4 linked regions of the Homo sapiens genome follow. The protein of the gene in region 1 interacts with the protein of each later gene in a biochemical or structural test. Each region holds a gene or a part of one and is shown in the gene's direction. Other genes may lie near its edges. The genes, in order: SMURF2, SMAD1, SMAD2 and RNF11.

Region 1 (7,028 bases):
CTCCCCAGTAGACCATCTGAGTCCCATGAGACTGCAGGCCCTGTGTTTTCTCCATCTCTCTCTTTAAGTACATTATTGCCTCTGCTTTACATTGTCAGGAACAGTTTTGAGATTTAAATGATATATAACCTGAACTGAATACTGGTTCTCTTTGCTTCCATTTGTTATGCCTTTTTTCCTTGTTAAATGAATGTGTATGCATGCATGTGTGTATACACATGTACATATCATGATGGTCCTCAGAATGTTTCAGTACAGAAGGTAGAATGCTTCTGCTACATTTGTAACTCACAGGTCAAGTCAAATTAATTTTCTTTCTTTTTTTTTTTTTTTTTTTTTTTGGAGACAGGGTCTCCCTCTGTCACCCAGGCTGGAGTGTAGTGGCGTGATCTCAGCTCACTGCAACCTCCCCATCCTGGGCTCAAGAGAGCCTCCCACCTCAGCCTCCTGAGTAGCTGGGACTACAGGTACAAGCCACCACACCCGGCTAGTTTTTGTTTTTTTTTTTTTGTAGAGATGGGGTTTTGCCATGTTGCCCAGGCTATTCTCGAACTTCTGAGCTCAAACAATCTGCCTGCCCCAGCCTTCCGAAGTGCTGGGATTACAGGTGTGAGCCACCACACCCAGCCAGTGATTTATTTCTGATATTATATTTACTACAAGAATTCTTTTCTATGTGTGAAAATTCGTTTTATATAAATGGAGAAACACTGTAGCTCTGTATTGAAATGTTCCAAGGATCATTGTGGTAATTCTGCTTTCCCTAATCTTAAATCCAACCAAAATTATGTTTTCAATAATTCCCATTAATTGTTATTTAGCATTACATGTGTGTATTTGTAGCCTTATTTTCATTCTGTCACCTTTTAAACCTACGGATGGATAGTTTCTTTAGTGTGGATTTTTAAAAATAATCCCTTGTACATCATACTTAGGACTTGACAGTTTCTGTGGAATTTGTATTACTTACTCATAACTAGAGTGAATGTTTATTGGGAACACTTCATCATCAACTACTGGTGGCATCTAAGTACTATAATTATATGTATAGATCAAATAAGTAGTTTATTTTATTTATTTAGTTTTTTAGAGACGGGGTCTCACTCTGTCACCCAGGCTCCATGGAGTGCAGTGGTGTGATCATGGCTCACTGCAGCTTCGAACTCCTAGGTACAAGTGATCCTCCTGCCTCAGCCTCCTAAAGAGCTAGGACTATAGGCACATGCTTCCATGCCTAATTAAAAAAAAAAAAATTTGGCCAGGTGCAGTGGCTCACACCTGTAATCCCAGCACTTTGGGAGACTGAGGTGGGCAGATCACGAGGTCAAGAGATTGAGACCATCCTGGCCAACATGATGAAACCCCGTCTCTACTAAAAACTAAAAAAAAAAGATTAGCTGGGTATGGTGGCGCACACCTGTAGTCCCAGCTATTCGGGAGGCTGAGGCAGGGGAATCACTTGAACCCAGGAGGCAAAGGTTGCACTGAGCCGAGATCGTGCTACTGCACTCCAGCCTGGTGACAGAGTGTGACTCCGTCTCAAAAAAAAAAAAATTTTTTTTTTTTTGGTAGAAACAGGATCTTGTGTTGCCCAGGCTGGTCTCAAACTCCTGGCCTCAAGTGATCCTCCAGCCTCCGCCTCCCTAAGTGCTGGAATTACAGGCGCGAGCCACCATGCCTGGCTCGTAGTCAGTTTTTTTTGTTGTTGTTGTTTTTGAGATGGAATCTCACTCTGTCGCCAGGCTGGAGTGCAGTGGCGCAATCTCGGCTCCCTGCAACCTCTGCCTCCTGGGTTCAAGCGATTCTCCAGCCTCAGTCTCCCGGGTAGCTGGACTACAGGCGCATACAACCACGCCTAGCTAATTTTTGTATTTTTAATAGAGACGGGGTTTCACCATGTTGGCCATGCTGGTCTCAATCTCCTGACCTTGTGATCTGCCCGCCTTAGCCTCCCAAAGTGCTGGGATTACAGTCATGAGCCACCGAACCCAGCCCAGTTTTTTGTTTTTTAACCTTACTACTGTCAGGGTTTGAGCAGAATAAATGGAATGTGACAGTGATCTGCTTTTTCTGAACTTTATTCCATAGTAGAATCTCAAAGTAGTTGAGTTCTGCTCTTATTTGTGTTCTAAATACTTGGTAAAACAAAACAAAAATTTGGATTTTCTTTTTAAAAAACACATACACACACCAAAAACACAAGACACATCAGATGAGTGTTATGTTGGGAAGGCTGCTTATGTGGAGACGTTACTTCTTTTTTTAATCTCTAGAGTAGTTTTTCAAATGTTACATAATGGTAGTAATTTAATTTAGACTCCATCACATAGAATTTTGAAACAGTTTCCTTTAACTAGTTTTAATACTATTCTGCATTTGCTCAAAAATATTATTCAATCTGTTTAATCCATAATATCAAAATATATCATTTAAATAACCTTCCCTAGCCAAGGAATGACAAGAATTAAGACTAGAACTACATCTCTTAAGTCCTAGACTAGTGAATTTCCAAAGTGAGTAACAAATTATCTTTTATACTTTGAAAAATTTGAAGGTTTTAATAAATTCAAGGTGGAAGTACTTTTTATTCCAGGTTTTAAAAACATTGATTTACATTGAAGTCAAGAAGTGGTATGGAACATACCCAAAGAATGCACGTTTGCCCTTGAGTCCATACCTACACCAAATGCCTTGCAATCCTTGCCCACTTATATTTTTATCATGGTATGTTTCAGGGTTTATACAGTGAATGATAATGAAATGAATAATGAAATGTCCTTAATACTACAACAAAATATAGCCTTGTCCAAAATGAAGAGTAAATCAATACTATATTATATGTCTGTATAAACTGGTCGTGATAGGAGTAGACCAGGATAATAGAGATGACGTGGACTTTTTTTTTTTTTCTTTGAGACAGGGTCTCTGTCACCCAGCCTGGGGTGCAGTGGTGCAATCTCAGCTCACTGCAGCCTCAACCTCCAGGGCTCAAGCAATCCTCCCACCTCTGCCTCCCAAGTAGCTGGGACTATAGGCACTTGCCATCAACCTGGCTAATTTTTGTATTTTTTGTAGAGATGGGATTTCGCCTTGTTGCCCAGGCTGGTCACAAACTCCTGAGCACAAGCGAACCACCTGTCTTGGCCCCCCAAAGTGCTGGGATTACAGGTGTGAGCCACCGTCCCCAGCCTCACATGGACATTTTGAAATAAAACCATATTCTTCCTTTTGTTTTATGTTTATTATGGATTACAAATTTATTTGGCAATTAAAAGTAACAGACCACTGGACCGTATCATCTCGTGAGTAGCTGAACTGTTGGATAATACTTTTATACTCTTTGATGCTAAAATATAATAAAATTGCCTAAATTTTGCGTGAGATGTTACTTCAATATAATAGAGTTTTTATATGCTATTTGGGTACGGTAGATTTTTCCAATGTGATCTTATATAACTGTAGTTAGTGCTTTTTTGCCTTTTATTAATTTAAATAATTATTTGCTAAAATGATTAGTTAATGACATATCTTAATAAAAATGTATACATTAACAAAAAAATTCCTTGGTCATATCTTGTTTTCTAGGGAATGGTTGTATCTCTTGTCACATGAAATGTTGAATCCATACTATGGCCTCTTCCAGTATTCAAGAGATGATATTTATACATTGCAGATCAATCCTGATTCTGCAGTTAATCCGGTATGATTTGAAGTTATGATGTGAATTGTGACCAATAATGCTTTTCATGTTTACATGTTAATGTAGTTTATTATATAGAAATTATTTGTCCTTGTCTTAGTTGTGCCCTTTGACTCAGCAATTCCCCTTCTATAAAATTTTCCCAAGCAGATGATTATGGATATATGCACCAATTTGGAAACAGGGATGTTTATTGTTTATAGTAGCACTCAACTGAAAACAACATAGTTGTCTTCAGGAGCGGGGACTGATTAAATTATGACATGAAGCAGAATAATGCAAATGATTAAAGGCATAGGTTCTGGAATTAGAAAGACGTGTCGTGGTCTCATCACTTACTAGCTTTGTGACCTTTCAGGGCAAGTTCATGGACTTAAGCTTCAGTTTTGTCATTGCTAATAAATACATTTGTACCTCAAAGAGGGGTTATGAGAATGAAATGGGACCCTGCACATTAAGCACTTAGCACAGTGCTGTATGTTATTCACTCTACAACTCTATCAACTACATTACTAAGCACTCAACAGAAGTTAGCAGTTATTACTAATGTATTGTTTTTATATTGTCTTTCCATATAAGGGCATACTATACAGCCACTAAAATGATAATGTGGGATAATAGTTAATGATATGGAAAGATGGTGTTTATGATGTGTTAAGTGAAACGAAGGTTATCAAATAGTATAATGCAACTTTGGTAAATATATATGTTTGTGTGCGTGCGCGTGTGTTACTTTTAAAAAAGAAACAAAAACAAGATAAAAGGTTTAAAGACGAGCTTAAAAGATTACTTAGTAAATAGAGAGGTAAAAGAATTTAAAAATACAAACATCTAACAAAACAATCTGTGACGAAAGACCAAATATATATAAAAGGGTAGAAATGTTAGATTTGTTTCAAGAAGTTATTTAGGGAGGATTTTGAGGTGAAGGTTCTTTTTGGAGGGCCCACTACTGCCCCTGTAGTAACAATAGCCCAGACTCATTGACTGCTTATAACATGCCAGGTCCAGTTCCATGGGTTTCAAACATCACCTCATTTTACTCCTCATAGAGATGCTTTTTAGATACTGTTATTATCCTCATATTTCCAGATGTGGACAGTTAGTCTTACGGGGGTTAATTTGTCCATATGCCATTGACTGGCAGAATCGTGATTCTAATTCAAGTCTGACACCAAGTCTGTGCTCTTAAATCTATGGTGTTTTGATGTTTAATTTCTGGTTAGGTCAAGGAAGTAGGGAGGTTTAGGATTGAAAGATTTTTTTTCATGACAAAGGGCTCAGCAGGAGGTGAGAGAAGGAAGAGAAAAGGATCTGCAAGTAGTTGAATGAAGCTCCGGGACCATAGTTTGGACTTAATTTCTAAAAGATAAAATTTACAAAATGACTGGCCCCTGCGAGAAGGGCATATTACCCTGTGTAATATGCTGTTCTCTGGTGATCTAGAGACTCTGGAGCATGCCCTAGAGAAATACTCCCTCCTGACTCTATTGAAGAGTAAAAATTTTATGCTTATTCTCAAAAAGATTAATGTTGCTGAAATATTTCATTTTTATTAAAATTTTCCTGGGTAGTGCCTAACGAGTATATATACTGTTTTCAATTTCAGGAACATTTATCCTATTTCCACTTTGTTGGACGAATAATGGGAATGGCTGTGTTTCATGGACATTATATTGATGGTGGTTTCACATTGCCTTTTTATAAGCAATTGCTTGGGAAGTCAATTACCTTGGATGACATGGAGTTAGTAGATCCGGATCTTCACAACAGTTTAGTGTGGATACTGTATGTATTGAGTCTTCTATCTCTTCATTATAAACTCTGAGCTTTAAAAAAAAATATGTTTCAAAACTGATGTACTTAAAAAAATTACACAGAAAATATTGAGTGGTTATTTGAGTGATAGGATCGCATATGATTTCCCCCTTTCCTGTAGCTTCTTTATACATTTCAAATTCCTTAAACTTAGCAAGTGTTACTACTTTAAAAAGGAAAAAACAACTAGTATATTTCTATTTTTAAAAGTACTTTATATAATTGTTTCCTCAATGTGATACAAATTCTGTTCCAAACCTGCGTGTGTTAGAATAGCAAATTCTTGGCTGCTGTTGCTTTTAATGAAGTGGCGATTGTTGGAACCGTACTTTTAGAATAAGAACTAATTGTTGAATTTAAGCTAAGAACTGATTCTGTTTTGCAAGAGGTCATTATTTTGTGAAGATACACTGGCAATGTTTATTTTTTATAAAGTATACAGTAGCTTTCTCACTAGGGATACACAGGCACTTGGCCCCTTGGAGTACAGTACCGAGTAGGGCTCTTCAGAATGCCAAATGTAACTGAAATTGTCCTATATTGGTGGTTCTAGCAAGGCCCAGCTTTGACCAAGGCTCTTTCTCATTACTCAGGAAGTTAAATGTTTTCTGTGTTTATGAAGGTTAAAGCTCTTTGACTTTTCTGTCCAGAAAGAACTAGGTGGTATGGAAGCAGAATCTGACCTCACATTTGTTATATTATAAAATGATCTTAGTTTTATCTCACCAATTAATACATCTATAGGGTCTGTATTTTAGGTTTCCCAGTTACATATCTTTTCCTCTTTCCTATCCAGTGAGAATGATATTACAGGTGTTTTGGACCATACCTTCTGTGTTGAACATAATGCATATGGTGAAATTATTCAGCATGAACTTAAACCAAATGGCAAAAGTATCCCTGTTAATGAAGAAAATAAAAAAGAATATGTCAGGTAAACACTCCTGTGTTCTCAAGGCTGAATTTTTTAAAATGTTCTAGAATGTTAGTATGAACAAACTTAAATATTTAGATAGTACTACTTAGTGTTACAAAATCCGCTTCAGGAGAATTTAGTGGCTTATTTAGAACAGACATTTTATTATTTCTCACAATTCCATGGGTCAGGAAATTGGGCAAAAGAACAACATGGATGACAACACTGGTGTTCCACAAGATGTCAGCTAGGCCTGCAACACCAAGATGGCCTCTTCACTCATAACTAGGATAACTCAAATGGCTGAGGGCTAGCTGGCATGGCTGTTGACTGGGGTCACTGTCTGGGGCCTTGTTCTCATTGTTGGCTGAGTTCCTTGGTTCTCCCTATGTGATATCAAAGGCCATTCCCTCTCTCCATGACCACTCCCTCTCCCCATAGCCACTCCCTCCCCCCATAGCCACTCTCTCTCCCAACAAGATAGCCAGACTTCTTATGGGGTGGCCAGCTTTCTAAAGCTCAAAAGCAGAAGCTGCTAGATCTTTTTAAGGCCTAAGCCTGGTCCTGGCCAACATGACTTCTGCTGTCTACTTC
Region 2 (7,028 bases), on another chromosome or scaffold:
CCTCTACAGAGAATTTGTTTTTCTTCTGGCAAGCTGTTAGAGAGCAATACCCATCACCTAGACCAAGGCTAGGATTAAGATGATTCTAGATTGGTTGTAAAGACTGATCCGTTTCATTTTTGCCCTTAGACTGGGGCATATTCCTCCAGGAGCTTCCATTGAAAGCCTAGACTATTTACCAGGGTTTCTCCTCAGCAGGCCCTCAACTCCATTTGTTGCTGTGTTGTTATTTTGGGGTTCCTCAGCGCTATGAGGCTACTAGAAGCTCTGCTTAGTTTTTAGCCTCTTAGTTACCTCTTTCTGCTCGGCTCCTAGACCTTTTGCTGCTCATAGCATAGCTATTGGCAAATCCCTGGAAAGAGTGGTGACGAATATTCAGCTCACTTCATTGCATTTCCCCTCTCTCCAGGATCTTGGCCCCCTCAAGTCCTGAGTGCCTTGGTTCCTCTTTGATGCCTTTAAAAAGCTGGGCTTTTGTTTGTTTGTTTTCTGGCTTGTTTGTTTGGAAGGAGGTTGGTCTGATACGTGCTACTCCAGTTTAGCCAGGGTTTGTACAAAGTTAACCTCCTTAACCTTTTTCACATTTTATGTTTTCATGTGCTAAAGAGTAAACAGTTTAAATGAGGCAACTTGGCTAAAGAATTTGGTACAGTATGTGTCCATGTGCTTTATTCCTTTTATGTCAATAAATAGCAACATTTTTAAAGCAGGAGATGTATTTCCTATCCTATTTGTCCTGTAGCCCATAGACACAGGCTTGTTCACTGAAGAAATACCCTAAAATATTACTACATTTATATAAGAGGAATTTTCTTTTAGCCTAAGAAATATTTGTAGAACAAACCAAAAAAACAGAGATATTAGACTATTTTTTTCTCCCTGTTGCTTTCAGTTTTTGTTGATTGAGGTGTTTTGAAATATATTTTTAGAGGTTATAAATGAATCTAAATCTAAAATATTACAATATCTTTTGAGAACTTGGGCTTTTTAACTTTGTTGCTTTTATCCCAGAGCTTTTGCTAACAGTGGCTTACTTTTTAAACTGCTTCTCAGTTTACTCATCTGTAAAGTGGCAGCAATTGTATTACCTAACTCAAAGGATTGTGAAAAGCATTAAATGCTATATATTAGTCTGCTTTGGTTGCCATAATAAAATATCATAGACTGGGTGGCTTAAATAACAGAAATAGATTTTCTCTTTGTTCTGGAGTCTGGAAAGTCCAAGATCAAGGTTCTGGACAATACAGGCTCTGGTGAGGGCTCTCTTCCTGGCTTGCAGATGATCACCTTCTTGCAGTACCCTCAGTGTGTGTGCATAGAGGCTGGAGGAGGGAGATAGCAATCTTAAGACCACCAGTCCTATCAGGTTAGGGCCCCACCCTGATGACCTTACTTAACTTTAATTACTTTCTTAGAGGCTCCATCTCCAAATATAGTCATACTGAGAGTTAGGGCTTCCGCATATGAATTTTAGGGGTCACAATTCAGTCCACAGCATACTGTATTACATAAAAGCACTTAAAATAGTACCTAGCACATGGTGATTACTTAATAAATGTGGTTGTATGGTAAAGATGATTCTAACCATTCTTTTTTTGTTTTGTAGGTGCTGACTGGGTTACTTTTTTAAACACTAGGAATGGTAATTTCTACTCTTCTGGACTTCAAACTAAGAAGTTAAAGAGACTTCTCTGTAAATAAACAAATCTCTTCTGCTGTCCTTTTGCATTTGGAGACAGCTTTATTTCACCATATCCAAGGAGTATAACTAGTGCTGTCATTATGAATGTGACAAGTTTATTTTCCTTTACAAGTCCAGCTGTGAAGAGACTTCTTGGGTGGAAACAGGGCGATGAAGAAGAAAAATGGGCAGAGAAAGCTGTTGATGCTTTGGTGAAAAAACTGAAGAAAAAGAAAGGTGCCATGGAGGAACTGGAAAAGGCCTTGAGCTGCCCAGGGCAACCGAGTAACTGTGTCACCATTCCCCGCTCTCTGGATGGCAGGCTGCAAGTCTCCCACCGGAAGGGACTGCCTCATGTCATTTACTGCCGTGTGTGGCGCTGGCCCGATCTTCAGAGCCACCATGAACTAAAACCACTGGAATGCTGTGAGTTTCCTTTTGGTTCCAAGCAGAAGGAGGTCTGCATCAATCCCTACCACTATAAGAGAGTAGAAAGCCCTGGTAAGTGAGTTATTTTATGTTGATGTGCTTTGTGTGCCCAGTACCAGATTTGTGTTGTTTAGAACATGAAAATAATCCCTTTGCTTGTTTTTAGTTGTAATTTAAAAATATTTGGGGAAACTGTGTGTGTGTGTGTGTGTGTGTGTGTGTGTGTGTGTGTGTGTCTGTGTGAATGCAAGAGAGAAAGCCCCTGAGTGTTTCATACATTTTAACAGCTTAGTCATCTCTAGTTAACATTATGTCTTGGGAGCAGGCTATGACAATTGTCATTGCAGTACTAATACCTCTAATTTTTAATAAATTGTTTTCTTTCTAAATTTATTTTTTATGTCTCACATGGTTCTCTGCATTTCTCTAGATAAAATTAGCTATGAATTGTATTCTAAGGGAAGAAAATTAGGAAAGAAATGCATTATTGCTGTCTATATGCTTAAGGGAAGTACATCATGAGGGTAGTTGCCAGTGACTTAAACCATTCTGAACTTAAGAACAGCACTTTTTATCATCTCTGGCGGAATTTTGCTGTGGCATATTTCCTATGGTGAATATGAAGGAATTATATCCTTCTATGGAATCATTTGATGCTATTACTTTATAAAATATACCCAGTTTTTACATGTATAGTCTTTTGGGAGGGTATGGTAAAGGATATATTTTAAAATTTATACGGTTTTGCCCTCAAGTTAGAATCTACATTCTAGAGAGTTGGATCATTGGAAAGTGATTAGATATTCAAGCACTTAAATGTCTCATTGTCGATTGGGACCAATTTTGTTGATGGATTGGCTGTTAATAGTTCCTGGGTTACTAAGGCTGTATATTAGAATCACATGGCTCTCCTCCCAGAAATCCTGATCCTGGGATAGCCTGGTAATCTTTGTTTCTAACAAGTACTTCAGGTGTTACTGATGTAGCTATTGGATTGGTGTTTAGGAATTACTAAACTAGATCATGTAATAACATGGTTTTCAAATAAAAGGCATTCTGTATTTTTGTGGAATATTTAAGACATATTTTAAAAAAAGATTTTAAAGACCAGTAGTATAACAAACATCTCTGTATCCCCTACTCATTTTAAGAAATAAAAGATTACGTGTAAACTGGAACCCCTGTTTTTGCTCCTCTGATTCTGCTCCCTTTGGTAACCACTGTTCTGAATCTGACGCTTATCATTCTCATGCATGTTTTTATACTGTTATTACATATGTATGAGTCCATGACAATATGTAATATTTTATATATTTAAAAATGTTACATAATATTGGAGTTTCTTTGTACAACTTATGTTCATCCAACATTACGTTTTTGTGATTTCTAGATTATATACTTTAGGATTACCTTGTTAAGTCCTATGAAAAACACTTTGGGAATTTATTGGAATTTCGTTGATTTCATTTGGGGAAGATTGGCCTACTGTGCTCTTGAGCATAATATTATTTAGTGCACTTTTAAGTTTCTCCATACAGCTCCTGCACTTACTAGATTTATTTCTAGATAACTGGTTTTTATTGTATCCTTTTAAAAGTTACATTTTGTTACAGTTGCTCTTGGTTAAGAGAGCATTGCCTTTTTTCTAACAACTGTGCTGAATTCTCCTTACCAGTTTGGATATAGACGTTCTTTACTGCTTGTTATATCAGCTGTGATGCAGTGTTCTTTTTTCTAAACTCAGCACAGAGGTACATGTCCCTCTTCTAGCCAGAAATGGAAATGGAGCTAAGAGTTTTGGAGAGTAAAATGTAGTAGATAAGTAATATGTACCAGCAATATTATTTAGGCACATGATTTTTTTGATCCTCGTAGTAACCTTAAAATGTATTAATACATAGGTAAGATTTTAATTCTACTCCATATGCGATGAAACTGAGGCCCCTACAAGTTAAGTGCCTTGTGTTAGAACTAGAAAATAGAGGCATTTGACATGAAAGGCAAAATTCACTATTTAAAAGACACTATGAATATGTCTTCTCCATCCATACTCCCCCTCACCCTGCGCTAACCTTCCAGCATTTCATCTTGCAATGCAGCAACTGCCTCCTGACTGGTCACCCCCTTCAGTCCATTGTCTACAGAAAGGGATCTTTTAAGATGCAGACATGATCCTCTTGTTGTCCTACTTTTCCCTACTCTTGAGAAGTCCTCTAGAGAGGTCTGCACATTCTGGTCCTTTCCTCCCTTTCCAACTTCCTTTGTACTCTTGCATGCTTTGTGTGCTTGAGTTCTCTGGAAACATTCCATGCACGTTTCCTCTATCTGTACCTGTTTCTCCTCCCTCTTTGTCTAGCCCACTCTTATTTATCGTTTGTGTCTAGCACATGGTCATTACTTAATAAACTAAGTAATTGTGTGATGGAGGTCAGTTTCATTGGGAAACCTTTCTTGATACCTCCTACTTCACACATATCTCCCTACTCTGCTTGGGGAGGTTAGGTCTCATTTCCCATAGCAACCTGAATTTCTTTAGAATGTTCTTCACACTTATAATGATTGTTCTGTTGGTCTTCTCTGCAAGATAGTAAATAAAGCTCCATGAGGGCAGGGACTATGTGTATAATTAACATCTCTATTTTTAGCAACAAGCATAATTTGATAAATTTTTGCTGTTAAATGGTGATGCTGATTTTTAATTTAATATCGTCATTTGGCCATTTTTTTAGTGCTGAATTTTCAGTTTATCTATACCTTTTGACCATCTTCTTCCCTTCTTTGGTCATTTTATGGCTATTACACCTCTGATACAAGGTGAAAAGTTAAAACCAATACTGAGATGAATTTGTTACTCTTAATAACATATGTGCTAATAAAATAATGGGGAAGAGGTGGAAAACTGGCTTACATAGGCATTTTGAGACTCCACAAATGCCATTTCAGCCTCTCCTTTACCCAGGAATCTTGTGAGTCATGGATAGAATAGAACAGTTCTGGAAAACATGGAGGCTGAGGCTAAGATCTATTTAATTTGAACATATCAAGATTTTATGTATATTTTTCACATTATGAAGTGACTGATGTGGGAATTGGAACAAAGGACTTTTTCCAGAGACCACTATGAAGCAGTCCCTGTACCTTCTGAAGAGAAACTCTACTAAATCAAAGTGCAAGAGGCAGCCAGATGTGGTGGTACATGCCTGTAGTCTCAGCTACTCAGGAGGCTGAGGTGGGAGGATCACTTGAGCCCCAGAGTTGAAGGCTGCAGCACACTATGATCATGCCTGTAAATAGCCATTACGTTCTAGCCTGGGCAGTGTAGTGAGACTCTGTCTCAGAAAAATAAAGTTAAAAAAATGCAGCATAGTAAAACCCCATCTCTACTAAAAATACAAAAATAAGCCTGGCGAGGTGGGGGGCGCCTGTAATCCCAGCTACTCGGGAGGCTGAGGCAGAAAAATCACTTGAACCTGAGAGGCGCAGGTTGTAGTGAGCCAAGATCATGCCATTGCACTCCAGCCTGGGGGACAAGAGTGAAACTCCATCTCAAAAAAAAAAAATAAAAATGTGCAAGGTGACTTAGCCCCTCACACTGCCAGAATTGAAGCCCTCTATAAAGCCGTACAGAGTACACCTGGGTATTGTTTTTGTGAAATCAGAAAAAGGGGGTCTGGAATTCTAAGCTGCACATATACACAGCTCAACACTGAATTATTTTGAACTTTGTCACTATTTTACTTCTGATGAAGTATCTCAAAGAACAGTTTAGCAGTTTAACATATTTAAGTCTCCCAAACTTGGTGACTTCTGCTGAGGTCTCAATGACTCTTGAAAAAAACTCAAAAATTGAGAATATTTAGGTTTAGAGTAGTGGTTTTCAAAGTGTCGTCCACAGAGTAGTAGCATCAGTACCACCTTGGAACTTGTTAGAAAAGCTAATTATTATTTTTAAATTGACAAATAATTGTATATATTTGTGGAATACAGTGTTATGTTTTGGTACATGTATACATTGTGGAATGATCAAATGAGGCTAATTAACATATCTGTCACCTCCCATGTGTATTTGCTTATTTCTTTCTTTTTCTTTTTTTCTCTTTTTTTTACTGCCTATTCTCTGAACCATTTTTTTGTTTGTTTGGTTGGCTTTTTTTTTTTTTTTTTTTTTTTTTGAGGTAGAGTCTCGCTCTGTTGACCAGGCTGGAGTGCAGTGGCATGATCTCGGCTCACTGCAACCTCTGCCTCCCAGGATCAAGAGATTCTCCTGCCTCAGCCTCCCGAGTAGCTAGGATTACAGACGTGCATCACCACGCCCAGCTAATTTTTGTATTTTTAGTAAAGATGGGGTTTTACCATGTTGGCCACGCTGGTCTCGAAGTCCTGACCTCAGTTGATCCACCTGCCTTGGCCTCCCAAAGTGCTGGGATTATAGGCGTGAGCCACTGAGCCCAGCTGAACCTTTTTTTTTTTCACCATACTAATTTCTTTTTGGTGAGTACATTTAAAATCCACCCCTAGCCTAAGCAACATAGCAAGACCCCGTCTTAATTTTTTTTTTTTTTAATTAGCGAGGCATGGTGGCATGTGCCTATAGTCCTACCTATTCAGAAGCTAAATCAGGAGGATCACTTGAGCCTAGGAGGTCAAACCTGTAGTGAGCTATCATCATGTCGCTGCACTCCAGCCTGGGTAAGAGAGAGACTCTGTATCAAAAAAAAAAAAAAACCCACTTTTTTAGCAATTTTGAAATATACAATGTATTATTAACTATAGTCACCATGCTGTGCAATAGATCACCAAAACTTACTACTTCTAGCTTAAGGTTTGTACCCTTTGACCAGCATTTCCTCTGTCCATGTTCACCCCTCCCTGCAGCCCCTGATAACCACCATTCTAATTCTACACTCTACTTTTATGA
Region 3 (7,028 bases), on another chromosome or scaffold:
ATAGTATATAATATATATTATACATAATATATATAATATATATATAATATATAATATATATTATACATAATATATATAATATATATATAATATATAATATATATTATACATAATATATATTATATATATAACATATATTATACATAATATATATTATATATATAACATATATTATACATAATATATAATATATAATATATATTATGTATAATATATAATATATATTATACATAATATATATAATATATTATATATATTATACATAATATATAATATATATTATATAATATATATAATATATATTATACATATTATGTATAATATATATAACATATATTATACATAATATGTATATAACATACATAATATATATTATACATAATATATATAATATATAATATATATTATACATAATATATATAATATATAATATATAATATATATTATACATATATATAATAATATATATATACTATATATAATATATATATGAGAGTGTGCACATATATGTACAAATGTGTATGTGTATGGTCCCTTCATAACCATGAGTTCAGCATCTGCAGATTCAACCAACTGCAGATTGAAAATAATCGGGAAAAAATGAAAATAACAATACGACAGTAAAAACTAATACAAATTGTATTTATTTTTATTTATTTTTTGAGACAGAGTCTTGCTCTGTCGCCCAGGCTAGAGTGCAGTGGCGCAATCTCGGCTCACTGCAACCTCTGCCTCCTGGGTTCAAGCAATTCTCTGCCTCAGCCTCCTGAGTAGCTGGGACTACAGGTGCATGCCACCACACCCAGCTAATTTTTGTATTTTTAGTAGAGATGGGGTTTCACTATGTTGCCCAGGCTGGTCTCAAACTCCTGGCCTCAAACGAATCACCCACCTTGACCTCCTAAAGTGCTGGGATTACAGGCGTGAGCCATCGTGCTGGGCCCAAATTTTAAAATACAGTATAACAAATATTTGTATAGCATTTATATTATTAGGTATTATAAGTAATCTAGAGATTATTTAAAGTATACAGGATGACGTGAATTTAAGTTACATGGAAATACTACACCCTTTTATGTCAGGGACTTGAACATCTAAGGGTTTTTAGTTAGGGGGAGCCGGTCCTAGAACCAATCCCCTGTAAATGCCAAGGGATGACTATATATATATATATATATATACATACATTTCTGTATTACTATTATTATTTTTGCCCTCATTTTACCCTATTTCACAATTTCTCTTCGGTTGTTACATGTTTGGAATTTATTCTACAAAATTGTGAGGTTTTTTTCTTTTGCAGTATTCCTTATGATATGTTTTAGTCAAACTGCAGAAGCTAAATATATAGTTTTCCAGTGAAATAAGTAGTCTTTTGACTCTATGGTCTGTTTCTACTTGCATGATCTTTGTGTGTTACTGCTTTCTGGTTCTTATGTATGAGTGGGTTTTCTCTTTTTGTAGCTAGGGTATCTCACCAAGAGTTTGATGTTAAAATAGACAAATGTCAAAAATATGTCATATTTTGTATCCTTTTATTATTACTGTTTTTCTTTGTGTGGCTTTTGACTCATTAATCTTTGCTCTGGCTTTATCTTACCCCACTTTAGCTTTTTTATGTGCTTTAGAAATGCACCAAGTATGGCAAGTTGACTGACTTTGCCTATGATTGTTTTGTATTTGAACAGGAGCTAGACTAAAACTACTGGTAAAACAAAGAATCCAACATAAAGTGATTTAATGACATGGGAGAAATTTGAAAAAATCTGGTATGATCTATGAAACTGGAGTTTTGTGTGAAAAATACTGAAAATCTGGTATCATCTGTGGAAACCGATACAGATACTATGTCTACTTCCTGAGCTTTTGCCAGTGCAGGCTGGCATAGAGCATGTAAAGATGATTATATTAAATCTATTTTTGGCTTGAATTGTTCACGCATTTCTTCCTTTTATTATTTTTTTATTTTTTTCTTTTTCAGATTTACAGCCAGTTACTTACTCAGAACCTGCATTTTGGTGTTCGATAGCATATTATGAATTAAATCAGAGGGTTGGAGAAACCTTCCATGCATCACAGCCCTCACTCACTGTAGATGGCTTTACAGACCCATCAAATTCAGAGAGGTTCTGCTTAGGTTTACTCTCCAATGTTAACCGAAATGCCACGGTAGAAATGACAAGAAGGCATATAGGTATGTTTTATTTTCCTTGTTGTGAAAAATAAATGCTGTATACTCATAATGTAGGCATTGCATGGTGTGCCACATCAAGAGCTTGTGTGCAGTAAAACCAGCTTTCTCTCTGGTGGTTTAAGTGCCGACACATTTAAGTGCACAGGCTTCACTGCTTCTAATAGATCCTGGTGATGCTTCAGCTGCAAACTCTTCAACTTTTATTTGGCACCCTTGGTACTGGAAAGTTCTTCAATAAATATGTGTTAAGATAAGTTTAATTTGCTGAGTCTCTACCAGTCATAAAATTGCCATGTTCAGATTTGGGGGTTAATACTTTTTTATAAATCATGTTTTTTTGTTTTGTTTTGTTTTTGTTTTTTTTCAGTTTCTTTATATAGCTCCCAGGTTTTTTCCCCCTTTGGTGAGTTTATATATTAAATGAAATCTGCTTGCTGTTCATCTGAAATGAGATATCTAAAACAAGAACTGCATTTAATATAGTTCAAAATATAATTCAGGGACATCTCAAAATGTGGTCTGGGGACTTCTGGTAGTCCCAGAAACCCTTTCAGCTAGTTTGTGAGGTCAAAGCTATTTTCATAGTAGTACTGAGATGCTGTTTGCCATTTCTACTCTCATACTCTCATGACTGTACAGTGGAGTATTCCAGAGCCTACATGCATATGATTTTGCAAGAGATGAAATGTAGATTTGATAATGAGACTCCAATTCTGTTACACTAGACATGAATGTTGAAATGTTGCCACTCTATTTTTTTTTTTTTTTTTTTTTGCTTTGGAAATATAGTTGTTTTTCATAGACAAAAATGGTGAAATGTTGCCACTCTATTTTTTTTTTTTTTGCTTTGGAAATACAGTTGTTTTTTATAAACATTGTTAATATGTAATGGATTTGATTTTTAAATGAATTTTTTAAATCTCAGTTTTTATATCTAATATGGTCATTTTCCATAATATTCACATAAACAAAAGCTCTTTGGGGTCCTCAGTATTTCCTTAACGATGAAGTGAAAAAGTGTGAGAACCATTCATAATTGAACATCATTCTCATCACCTTAAAGTAACTTCTTTTAACAGTAGTTTGCTTCTGTTTTTTTTCTAATTAACCATTACCTCCTGTGAGAAGTAATGCTGGTTATCAAAGTGTGATTTTGATACTGCAAAATGATAGTGACTAGAAGATCTATTACTTGGTTCCAAGTGGAAGTTCTCAAATCTTGCTTGATGTATAAATTTGGATAATCTTATTAAGATACCCAGTGTCGCTGTAGGTGCTTTAACTAAAATAGTTTTTTGTTTTTGTGACTTAATTGGGGTTCTGCAAAAAAATTTAATGGGTTTTCTCTGCCTTATTCTCTTCTCCCTCCAAAGTTTTAGATTGCTGTCGTTATTGGATTTTTTTAAATTTTTTATTTCTAGTTTTATAGGTGATATTGATCAGGGAATATAGCCTGAAAAATCTCTACTTTTTGGACTTAGTGTTTTCCCAATGACCACGTGCATGACTGTTTTACAGATATTCCATAGTCTTAACAGAACCACCGTACCAGGTTCTGTATTAAATCTGGAGTGTTAGTTGTTTGATTAGTTTTCTTTTGCTGTGTAACAAATTACCACAAACTCAGTGGCCTAAAACATCAGTTTTTTACCTCACGGTTTCTGTGGGTCAGGAGTCCAGACATGGGTTAGGCGGTCTTTTCAGGGTTTAACAAGGCCAAAATTGAGGTATCAGCTGGCTTGTGTTCTTATCTGGAGCTTGAGGTCCTCTTCTAAACCCACATGGTTGTGGCAGAATTCAGCTCCTAGATGCCTCCTGAATTCCTTGTCACATGGTGCCATCCATCTTCAAAGTCAGCAATGGAGAATGTCTCTTGTGTTGAATACCTTTCATGCTTTGAATCACTTAGCCTATGACAGTCTAGTCCCTTTTAAAGGATTGCCTGATTAAGGTTAACTGATTTGCTGCCTTAATTACATCTGAAAAAATCCTTAACAGCAGCACCTAGTGTTTGATTAACAGAGAATGTATGTGCACCTCAGGGCTGAGACTCTTAGGTGTCATGTTAGAACTCTGCTTCTCACAATTTTTTTTTTAATTCTTATATCTCATATTATTTTGCATCTGTGATCTCTCAGATTCTGAAAGAAGTATATTAAAAATCTCCCAGTAGAATTTTTTCTCACCTAATCATGCTTATACATCTAGAGGTTGGGTTTCCACCATAATATATAGTTTTTAAAATGGCAAATGACTTTTTGATGTTTTTACATCTTTTTTCTTAACATTAAGTGGGATCTCTAAGAAACTACAGTTGTAATGAAGATATATTTCTCCAAACATTAGTGAATTCCTTCAAAATTAACTCAATCTTTTACTTATCTTAATATATATCATTTGTATGAAACTATTTTACTATGTGTACTTTTTCTACATTGTTTAAATACTTTCAGTCAGTACACATGTATTTTAAAATCAATAAAATTATTGTTAGAAAATACTTGGGAGAAATATACAGTAGTATATTTAAAGTTAGACTTCAGAAAGACATTATCTGTGAAAAAGATCCTGGAAATACCTTATATCATTTTAGAATTTTTCCAAGAAAATGCTTCCAAAGTCACACTGAAATAGTAAATGTTACAAAACTAATCTCATTTGTATTTTGTTTCAGGAAGAGGAGTGCGCTTATACTACATAGGTGGGGAAGTTTTTGCTGAGTGCCTAAGTGATAGTGCAATCTTTGTGCAGAGCCCCAATTGTAATCAGAGATATGGCTGGCACCCTGCAACAGTGTGTAAAATTCCACCAGGTATGGATTCAATAATGTACATAAACCTATCATGTCAACTTGCTTAGTTTTTCTTGTTGCTAATTTTAGGAATCAGTAGATGATTGCATGCTCATATTCTAAAACTTGTAACCCTTTTAAAATTACTTTTTAATAATGATACTCTTTTGACAATTTCTTTTACCTTTTTTAATCATAGGCTGTAATCTGAAGATCTTCAACAACCAGGAATTTGCTGCTCTTCTGGCTCAGTCTGTTAATCAGGGTTTTGAAGCCGTCTATCAGCTAACTAGAATGTGCACCATAAGAATGAGTTTTGTGAAAGGGTGGGGAGCAGAATACCGGTATGAAATACATATTTGGTTCTTAAATTTCCACAGTGTAATTATGTTTCATTGCATTCTTGCATATTCTGGAGTTCATTTGTATCTATTTTCAATGAGGTTATAGAGTCAGCTGATCTTTATGTAAAATAAAGTTGGAGGCCTCCAAATTCAAAACTGTTGCAAATTACTGAGCTGCCATTATGGAAGATATTAAAACATGCACAGGCGTGCATTTTAACGTAATTCAGAGTGTTAAATATCATAAAAGGGGTGTATATGAAGGGTTATGTCAGTTTATGGAAGGAGAGATGTTTGCACACGGTGCTCAAGGAAAACTTGATGGCACATGATCTAGTTGTAAAAGGTGCATTGGATTTCAATAGTCATAAATGGGGTGGGCAGAGTTGGGAAGTGATAATCTTGACAATAGCATAGCAATTCAGTTTGGAGAATAGAAAAATAAGGCTGGACAATTAAATTGAGACAAACTAGATGTAGGTTAAGAGGAGGAACTTCATTCAGAAGTAGAAGGAATACTTGCTAATGTGCCAGGCACTGTGCTGTTTTAAGTGTAGTATCTAAAAATTATTATTTCTGTTGTCAATTCATTCTTTGTAAGGTTGAAATATATGAAATTGCCATCGTTGCAGGTAACACATGGTTCAAACTAATACATATTTGGAAATAGACATAGAAAGCTGATAATTTGCCCAAGGTTACATTATAAGTGGTTGAGATGGGACTGGAAGATAGTTCTCCTGGACTCTTTACCTCTTTTATAAGGATAGTAGTAACAATTATGTTTAAGTTTTACAAAAACTAATTTGTCATCAGTGGATAAGATAGTCTAGATTATTGATGAATTAAACAATAGATTGGATTTCACATCAAAGAGAGAGAAGACTTCTTGACCATATTTAAGAGTAGGAATTAAGTAAAATACTTAGTCTTTCTTCAATTCGTATTGCTTACTCCATATGCCTGCTTAAGAAATATTCATGTAATATAGTGATTGTATTCCTGCTTCTTCCAGCAATTTAGTCCCTTCCAAATTTATTTGTTTTGGACTTGCTTGTCTATCTTAAGTTTTGTCAGAAATCTGATTTGAGATTGTGCAATGTGAGGTCTACTTGTTGAATACATTTAAAAATATATGGTATATATTTGTATCAGAGAATGAAGACTTGTCACTATTTTTTTCTGAGTTATATTGGTAGAATAATTCATTTTGTGATTTTGCTGTAGTTCTGTTTTGATTATTACCCTTTTGAGATGTTGTTACCTGTTAAGAATGCTGAATGCCGTTTTTTAAAATTAGACTTGACCTGAGTTGATAGCAAAATTAGATTTAAATTATATTGTCTAATAAGATTTCAGGTCAGACTTTTTTTTGTTCTTCAGAAGGTTAGAATAATGCAAAATATGGTAGGAATTTAGTGGAAGTAAGAGTGAATTACAGAGAGAATTCCATGTGTATCTATAGATCTGCTAAGAACAGTTTTACTTGGTAAAGATACTGCCCTTCTTCATTCACTGTGGACTCTGCTGTTCTTTAACTCACAGATAAAGTAAAATCTGTAATTACAGAAGCAGTAATATGCAGTATGTTTTTATGAGTATTGGGAGTCAGGTACATCTGACTTTGGAAAATCAAGTAGTTTCCTGTAACATTTACAAATCAAAATGGCAAATATCCATCTATCTGTGGATATGTGGG
Region 4 (6,979 bases), on another chromosome or scaffold:
GGCATGGTGGCTCATGCCTGAAATCCCTGAACTTTGGGAGGCCAAGGCAGGTGGATCATTTGAGGTCAGGAGTTCGAGACCAGCCTGACCAACATGGTGAAACACCATCTTGATTAAAAATACAAAAAGTTAACTGGGCATGGTGGACCCCGGCTATAATTCCAGCTATTCAGGAGGCTGAGGCACGAGAATCACTTGAACCCAGGAGGTGGAGGTTGCAGTGAGCCAATTGTGCCACTGCACTGCAGCCTGTGTGATAGAGTGAGACTCCGTTTCAAAAAAAACAAAAACAAAACAAAACAAAATTCTATCGTTTTTTTAAACTATGTTAAAATTGTAGCTGATATTTTACTCATCCACAAAAAAATAATGGTCAATAACCATTCATCTTTTCTAAAATATCATTTCCTCTGAGCTCAGGGGAATATGCAACAGTTATTCTCTCACCAGACACAGAGGTCTAAAGCTGTACCTTTGTGAGGTAGTGATATATATATGCTCATGGAAGCAAAAGTTAAAAATAAAAGTAGAACAAATATAAAGGTCTGAATGTAGCCCTGCTAACTGTTCACCTACTTGTCTCATCTACTTGAGTTTGAGCTATTTGAAGGCAGGGACCATGTCCAAGCCATTAATGGGCTTCAAATGCTCCTCCCATCTTCTGGTGAACAACTAGCCTTGTTTGTTTGTTTGTTTACTGAGACGGAGTCTCACTCTGTTATCCAGGCTGGAGTGCAATGGCGTGATCTCGGCTCACTGCAACCTCCGCCTCTCAGGTTCAAGTGATTCTCCTGCCTCAGCCTCCTGAGGAGCTGGGATTACAGGTGCATGCCACCATGCCCGGCTAATTTTTGTATTTTTAGTAGAGATGGGGTTTCGCCACATTGGCCAGGCTGGTTTTGAACTCCTGACCTCGTGATCCACCCGCCTCGGCCTCCCAAAGTGCTGAGATTACAGGCGTAAGCCACTGCACCCAGCCCAAGCTAGTTTTAAACTTAACAATATAACTTATTTTCACAAGGCACTATAGAACTTTTCAAGGGCTTGTGTCAGTGTTACCCACCTGTGGAAAAAAAGAATGAAAAACAAAACTTAAAAAAATAAATCTGGCCTGGCGAGCTGGCTCACGCCTATAATCCCAGCACTTTGAGAGGCCAAGGTGGGTGGATCACCTGAGGTCAGGAGTTCGAGACCAGCCTGGCCAACATAGTGAAACCCCGTCTTTACTAAAAATACAAAAAATTAGTTGGGCGTGGTGGTGCGCGCCTGTAATCCCAGCTATTCAGGAGGCTGAGGCAGGAGAATTGCTTGAACCGGGGAAGTAGAGGTTGCGGTAAGCCAAGATCGCACCATTGCACTCTAGCCTGGGCAACACAAGCAAAACTCTGTCTCAAAAAATAAAAATTAAAAAAAATTAAAACTAACTAAATAAATCTATGTCTGGCCAGGCATACAGTGGCTCACACCTGTAATTCCAGCACTTTGGGAGGCTGAGGCGGGAGGATCGCTTGCGCCCAGGAGTTTGAGACCAGCCTGGGCAACATGGCAAGACTTCGTCTCTACCAAAAACAAAAACAAATGCAAGGCATGGTGGTGTGCATCTGTAGTTCTAGTTACTGGAGAGGCCTGAAGCAGGAGGATCACCTGAGCCCAGGAGGTTGAAGCTGCAGTGAGCCTCGATCAAGCCAGCCTGGGTGACAGAGTGAGACCCTGTCTCCAAAACAAACAAACAATGTCTACAAATTCTAGCACTGTGTAAATATTATGTCAAATAATTGTATAAATTATTATTAATAAAAATTTCTTTAGGTTTGACAATAATTTGTGGGGTAAATTTTCTCACTTTGTAAAAATTCCAGGGTACCTCTGATTTCTGGTAAATTTAGCCAATCATAAATTAAATGAGTTCTTGGAAGCTCAACAATTCCAAAACCAAAATTGTGAGTCAGTTTGTTCTTTCTTTCCTTCTTTCCTTTCTTTTTCTTTTTCTTTCTTTCTTTCTTTCTTTCTTTTCTTTCTTTCTTTCTTTTCTTTCTCTTTTCTCTTTCTCTTTCTCTCCCTTCCTTCTTTCCTTCCTTCCTGCCTCCCTTCTCTCTCTCTCTCTTTCTCCTTCCTTTTTTTTTTGAGACTGAGTCTTACTCACTCCCTCGCCCACGCTAGAGTGCAGTGGCACAATCTGGGCTCACTGCGCTGCAACTTCCACCTCCCAGGTTCAAGCGGTTTTCCTGCCTCACCCTCCCGAGTAGCTGGGACTACAGGCGTGCACCAGCACACCTGGCTAGTTTTTGTATTTTTAGTAGAGATGGGGTTTCACCATGTTGGCCAGGCTACTCTCGAATCCCTGACCTCAAGTGATCCACCCGCCTTGACCTCCCAAATTGCTGGGATTACAGACGTAAGCCACCACGCCTGGCCCAAAATTATGAGTCTTTTCAAAAATTTTATATCAAAAAGGTGATATTTAATGTGGAATTTGAGTGCATTTAAATAAGATAGTGACTTCGTAGAATAGGGACTGCAGAGTAAGAGTGTTCAGACCCATTCGAGTTTAATATAGCCCTACCTCTAAGAATCCTTTCTGTTCCTCACTCAAATGAACTAATTGCTGTCTTTCAGTTCCTCTAAAAACCTTGGGGTCCGTGGCAGGGTGTGGGCTTAGGACTCACCTGATTACTTGTCTTCCCAGGTGGTCTCTGGGCTCTATCAGGAACAAGCCAGGTATGATCATCCTTTTCCCCAGTCCTTAGCGTGGGGTCTGGTATACACACGCACACACAACTTCAGTAAATGGTGAATGAAACGAAAGGCAGTCAAGATCCACCTGTTGAATGAACGTCTATCAGGAGCACTGTCATCCTTCTTGCTTCCTTCTTTTGCATATGTTGTTTGAGCTGCTCATTCAACCAAGGAGAGAGCATACTCTACCTTGGGCAGTGTGCCAGCCTTGCACAGAGGGACAGATGATTCAGCTTGATCAGGCTGTGACAGAGAAAAGCTCAGGGTCTGAGAGCACACAGGATGCGACTAACCCAGACTGGAGGGTCAGGAGAGTCTCCCCAGGGGAAATGAAGTTGCATCCAGAAGGATTCCTGAGAATAATGATTAGCCTGATGAGAAGCAGAAAGGTTGGGAGTGGAGGGAAGTGGGTTTCTGTGAGAGAAACAATATGGACAAAGGCCCCAGGCAGAGGCAATAGTATTCCAGATAACGAAAAGCATTTTAGAGAGTCTAGTTTAGAATTTGTGAAGGAGGTGACAATGCTGCTAATGAGATTGAAAGGGAGTCAGATTTGTAAACCATTTAAGGATTGTCTTAAGGACAGCCTTGAGGAGACACTGAAGGTTTTAACAGGAGAATGACATGATCCGATTTAAATTTTAAAAAGATAACTCTGTCAACTGTGCCAACAGTGAATTGGATGTGGGCAATGATGAACTCAGGAACAGCTGAGAGTCTATTGCAGAAGCCAAGGTGAGAGATGATGGTGGCTTGGACTTTGGTGCTGGGACTGGAAAGAAATGAACAATCTGATATACAACTGGAAGAATAATCTCTCTGGCTGTGATGTGGAAGGATAAGGACGTGATTGGACAGGCAGGGATGGTTCAGTAACGAGCTAGGACTTTATTGTGAAGGGATAAAGGGGAAGCTTTTAACATTTTAATCATGGGACTGATCCATTCCGATATGGGTTTATATAAATAGACCGCTTGGCGGAGGGTGGTGAGAAGACTGTCAGGCAGTGCACAGGTAAGAACTGAGCCCTAGACGGGGCAGGAGCAATGAATGTGGGGAGGCGCGGGAGACGGGAGATTGGTTTCGGAGCCAGGTACGGAGCCAAGCAGTCAGAGAGAAGCAAAAATTGACGCAGCACCGAGAACAGCTGCTAGTGGAGAGGGGGATGGGCGCCGCCGGAGCCGCCCTCGCCTCCTGGCGCCGGGGGCGGGACCAGAGCACGCACGGCGCGATGACGCAGTGCCCGAGCCGGCCTCGTTCTGGCTGCCGCCGTCTCGCTGAGGCGGAGTAGGATGAGGCCCGCGGCCGTGGCTCCGGCGTCGGCGGGGGCAGCAGCAGCTGAGGCAGCAGCTGAGGCAGCCGCGACGGCCGCGCCCCCCCCCGCTGACCTGGATTAGGCCCAGCAGCTCCGTGGCCGCCGCCGCCCCGCGGGGGGGCGGGGTGGGGAAGTGCTTCGTCTCCCCGCCCCCCCCCCCCCATCGCTGCCTCGCAGGAGGCGAACGCCGCGACCCCAGCGGAGCCCGCGGCCCAGCCTTGATCCCCCAACCCCGGGGGCTGGCATGAGCGGCCCCTCGGCGGCACCGTGGGGCGGTGGAGTCGCCTCCGCCTGATCCCCGGCCTGTCGCCCGACCCCACCTCGCCAACCGAGGCGGACCGCGGAGTGTGCGAACGACCCCACCGCTGCTTTCTCCTCCCCCAGATCACGCACCCCAGCTCCGGAAGATGGGGAACTGCCTCAAATCCCCCACCTCGGATGACATCTCCCTGCTTCACGAGTCTCAGTCCGACCGGGCTAGCTTTGGCGAGGGGACGGAGCCGGATCAGGAGCCGCCGCCGCCATATCAGGTAGGGGAGGGTGTGTGTTGGGGGGAGCGAGTAGAGGCAGCTCTGGCGGAGATTGAGGGGGCTTCGGGGCCGTCTCTGCCCCTGGCTTCGGCAAGGCCTGGCCTGGGCGGCATTGACCCCTTAGGGCTGGATCTGAGGGCATTTGCTCTCTGATCTCAGAGTAAGGTTGATTCTTCGCCTGCCCTCGGGCACCGTGTGGGGATGATACCCTCTGCCCTTGAGTTCTGGGATCAGAGTATGTGATCACATCCCCTTGGCCAGTGTCTGGTGGTTCGCTTGTGGAGTTTGGGAGTGACATTTTCCTGTCTTTATGTCTGAATCGTATGATTTCCTCATCGCACCGCCAACTGGATTATGGGTTCTGGATAGGTGGTTGCCAAGCACCACCCCCCCGCCCCATTTATGTTTTCATGTGTGGTCGTCCTCTTACCCACCTCCCTCGTCTTTTTGTTAATTGGATCTGGCAGGTTTTCCCTCTGCTTGGGAGACGGATCTCCAAGTGGTGATTTTAACCCTAGCGACATCGAGTTACTTGTGTGTGTGTGTATATATATATATATGTGTATATATATATATATATATATGTATATAAATTTTAATCCCTCCTCTTTTTGCTCCACCCATATGACACACCTTTTAAACGTGCTGACTTAAGAAAACTTGATTAGCTTGAACTTTGGAAACCTTTAAACCTGGCTTGGGAAATTCCTTCGGTTACTCGTGTTCTCCCTTTGTATCAAAGACTCTCCTAAATACGTTGTACTGCTTTTTGTACAATAATCAGTAGTCCCAGATGTGTTGCAGAATTCGAGTGAAGACCTCTTAAACTCAAAATAGGTATGTGGATGTTATAATCCACAATAGATGTGTGAAAACCTTTCCTGTACTTTTTCCATTTTAGATGATATTGAATACACCCTTTTCCAGAGGGCTTCAATAGTAGTAGTGCTTAATTTCTTCCTGAAGAGTTTAGTTTTCTGACTGGGTAGGCTCCTTTGTTGTTTCATGTGATGACATCATTATCTAGTGTTTTCTTTTCTCATTCCTGTGTAAACCAATGTCTCATCACACCAGAAAAACCTGATCATATATATGCTCGTTTTCTGAATAAAATTCTTCTGGGGGCATTTCATATATACCAGTAAGGTCCAGTCTTGATTGTGGTATTACAGAAGCCTCCATGACTTCTCCCTCTTACGTTCTATATTCCAGGCCTACCAAATACACCAGGCTGTTCACAGCTTTGTTTTGCTCCAGTTCCTCTCTGCTTGGAGCCCTTCGCCCGGGTCAGCCAGGTGGACATCTAATCCTCTTTGAGAACTCAGCTTTCATGTCTGAAGTCCCAGCATTCCCTTCCTTCCCAGCCCGAATCCCTTGTGTCCCCACTGAAACCTCTACACTTCCATAAGCAATATCTATAACACTTTAGTGTTGTATCTTTGTTAGATGTGTGTCTCATCCTTGTAATCGCCTCCTTCAGTGCAAGCTGCGTGAAGGTAGAGAATCTGTGTTTCCGGTTTGCTGTTGTATCCCTCGCATCTGCCTCAGTAGGGACTCAGTAACTGGGAGATAAATTACGAGTAAAAGCCCTTGAGAACAGGGACTCTCCCCTCGCTCAGTTTCTGGCACATAAGCACCTAAATGCTGAATTAATTAATGAAGTTGAATTTAGTATTTTCTGTATTTACACAAATATTTTTTCCAAAGTAAGTTGTCACAGGGTAGTCTCTTAAAAATCAAAGCTGAATCTGGGTGTCTTTACAAGTACCTTTGAGTGAAGCAAGCAAGCTATGTTTATCCTTCACTGTCTTTCCCTCCTATGTTTACTATACAACAAAAGTGCTTATTTAACTTTTTTTTTTTAATGAGATGGAGTCTCGCTCTGTCACCCCGGCTGGAGTGCAGTGGCACAATCTCACTGCTTACTGCAACCTCCACCTCCCGGGTTCTAGCGATTCTCCTGCCTCAGCCTCCTGAGTAGCTGGGATTACAGGCGCGTGCCACCACACCTAGCTAATTTTTGTATTTTTAGTAAAGACGGGGTTTCACCATGTTGGTCAGGCTGGTCTTGAACTCCTGACCTCAAGCAGTCCACCCACCTCAGTCTCCCAAAGTGCTAGGATTACAGGCATGAGCCACCGCATCTGGCATGAAGTTTTTATTTTAAAATCTCTTATGCTCCCTACCCTCACCCCCTTCTATTTTTAAAAAAATAGAGACAGGGACTCCTATGTTGCCTAGGCTGGTCTTGAACTCCTGGCCTCAAGCAAATTCTCCTGCCTCCTATCCCCTTTCTTAATTGAATATCTTTGACTTGTTCTCTTTCTCCTATCCTTATGATAATTGTACTATTAAAGGTACTAGAATTTATGGAAACTGTGTTTGCCTTTTCCAGAAG

What was found.
Region 2: the proteins of SMURF2 (region 1) and SMAD1 form a complex in vitro, tested with the Homo sapiens proteins (2 studies listed by BioGRID and IntAct, with this or other methods).
Region 3: the proteins of SMURF2 (region 1) and SMAD2 form a complex in vitro, tested with the Homo sapiens proteins (3 studies listed by BioGRID and IntAct, with this or other methods).
Region 4: the proteins of SMURF2 (region 1) and RNF11 form a complex in vitro, tested with the Homo sapiens proteins (3 studies listed by BioGRID and IntAct, with this or other methods).

The regions. Positions count from the first base shown.
Region 1 is NC_000017.11:64,554,280-64,561,307, reverse strand, and holds part of SMURF2 (E3 ubiquitin-protein ligase SMURF2), read left to right. Parts: intron 1-3,585; coding exon 3,586-3,700; intron 3,701-5,309; coding exon 5,310-5,488; intron 5,489-6,314; coding exon 6,315-6,452; intron 6,453-7,028. UniProt on the Homo sapiens protein: E3 ubiquitin-protein ligase which accepts ubiquitin from an E2 ubiquitin-conjugating enzyme in the form of a thioester and then directly transfers the ubiquitin to targeted substrates.
Region 2 is NC_000004.12:145,512,832-145,519,859, forward strand, and holds part of SMAD1 (mothers against decapentaplegic homolog 1), read left to right. Parts: exon of another isoform or gene 1-651; intron 652-1,606; 5' UTR 1,607-1,782; coding exon 1,783-2,182; intron 2,183-4,182; exon of another isoform or gene 4,183-4,363; intron 4,364-7,028. UniProt on the Homo sapiens protein: Transcriptional modulator that plays a role in various cellular processes, including embryonic development, cell differentiation, and tissue homeostasis.
Region 3 is NC_000018.10:47,843,641-47,850,668, reverse strand, and holds part of SMAD2 (mothers against decapentaplegic homolog 2), read left to right. Parts: intron 1-1,981; coding exon 1,982-2,194; intron 2,195-4,868; coding exon 4,869-5,006; intron 5,007-5,184; coding exon 5,185-5,329; intron 5,330-7,028. UniProt on the Homo sapiens protein: Receptor-regulated SMAD (R-SMAD) that is an intracellular signal transducer and transcriptional modulator activated by TGF-beta (transforming growth factor) and activin type 1 receptor kinases.
Region 4 is NC_000001.11:51,232,299-51,239,277, forward strand, and holds the start of RNF11 (RING finger protein 11), read left to right. Parts: upstream 1-3,974; 5' UTR 3,975-4,458; coding exon 4,459-4,581; intron 4,582-6,979. UniProt on the Homo sapiens protein: Essential component of a ubiquitin-editing protein complex, comprising also TNFAIP3, ITCH and TAX1BP1, that ensures the transient nature of inflammatory signaling pathways. Promotes the association of TNFAIP3 to RIPK1 after TNF stimulation.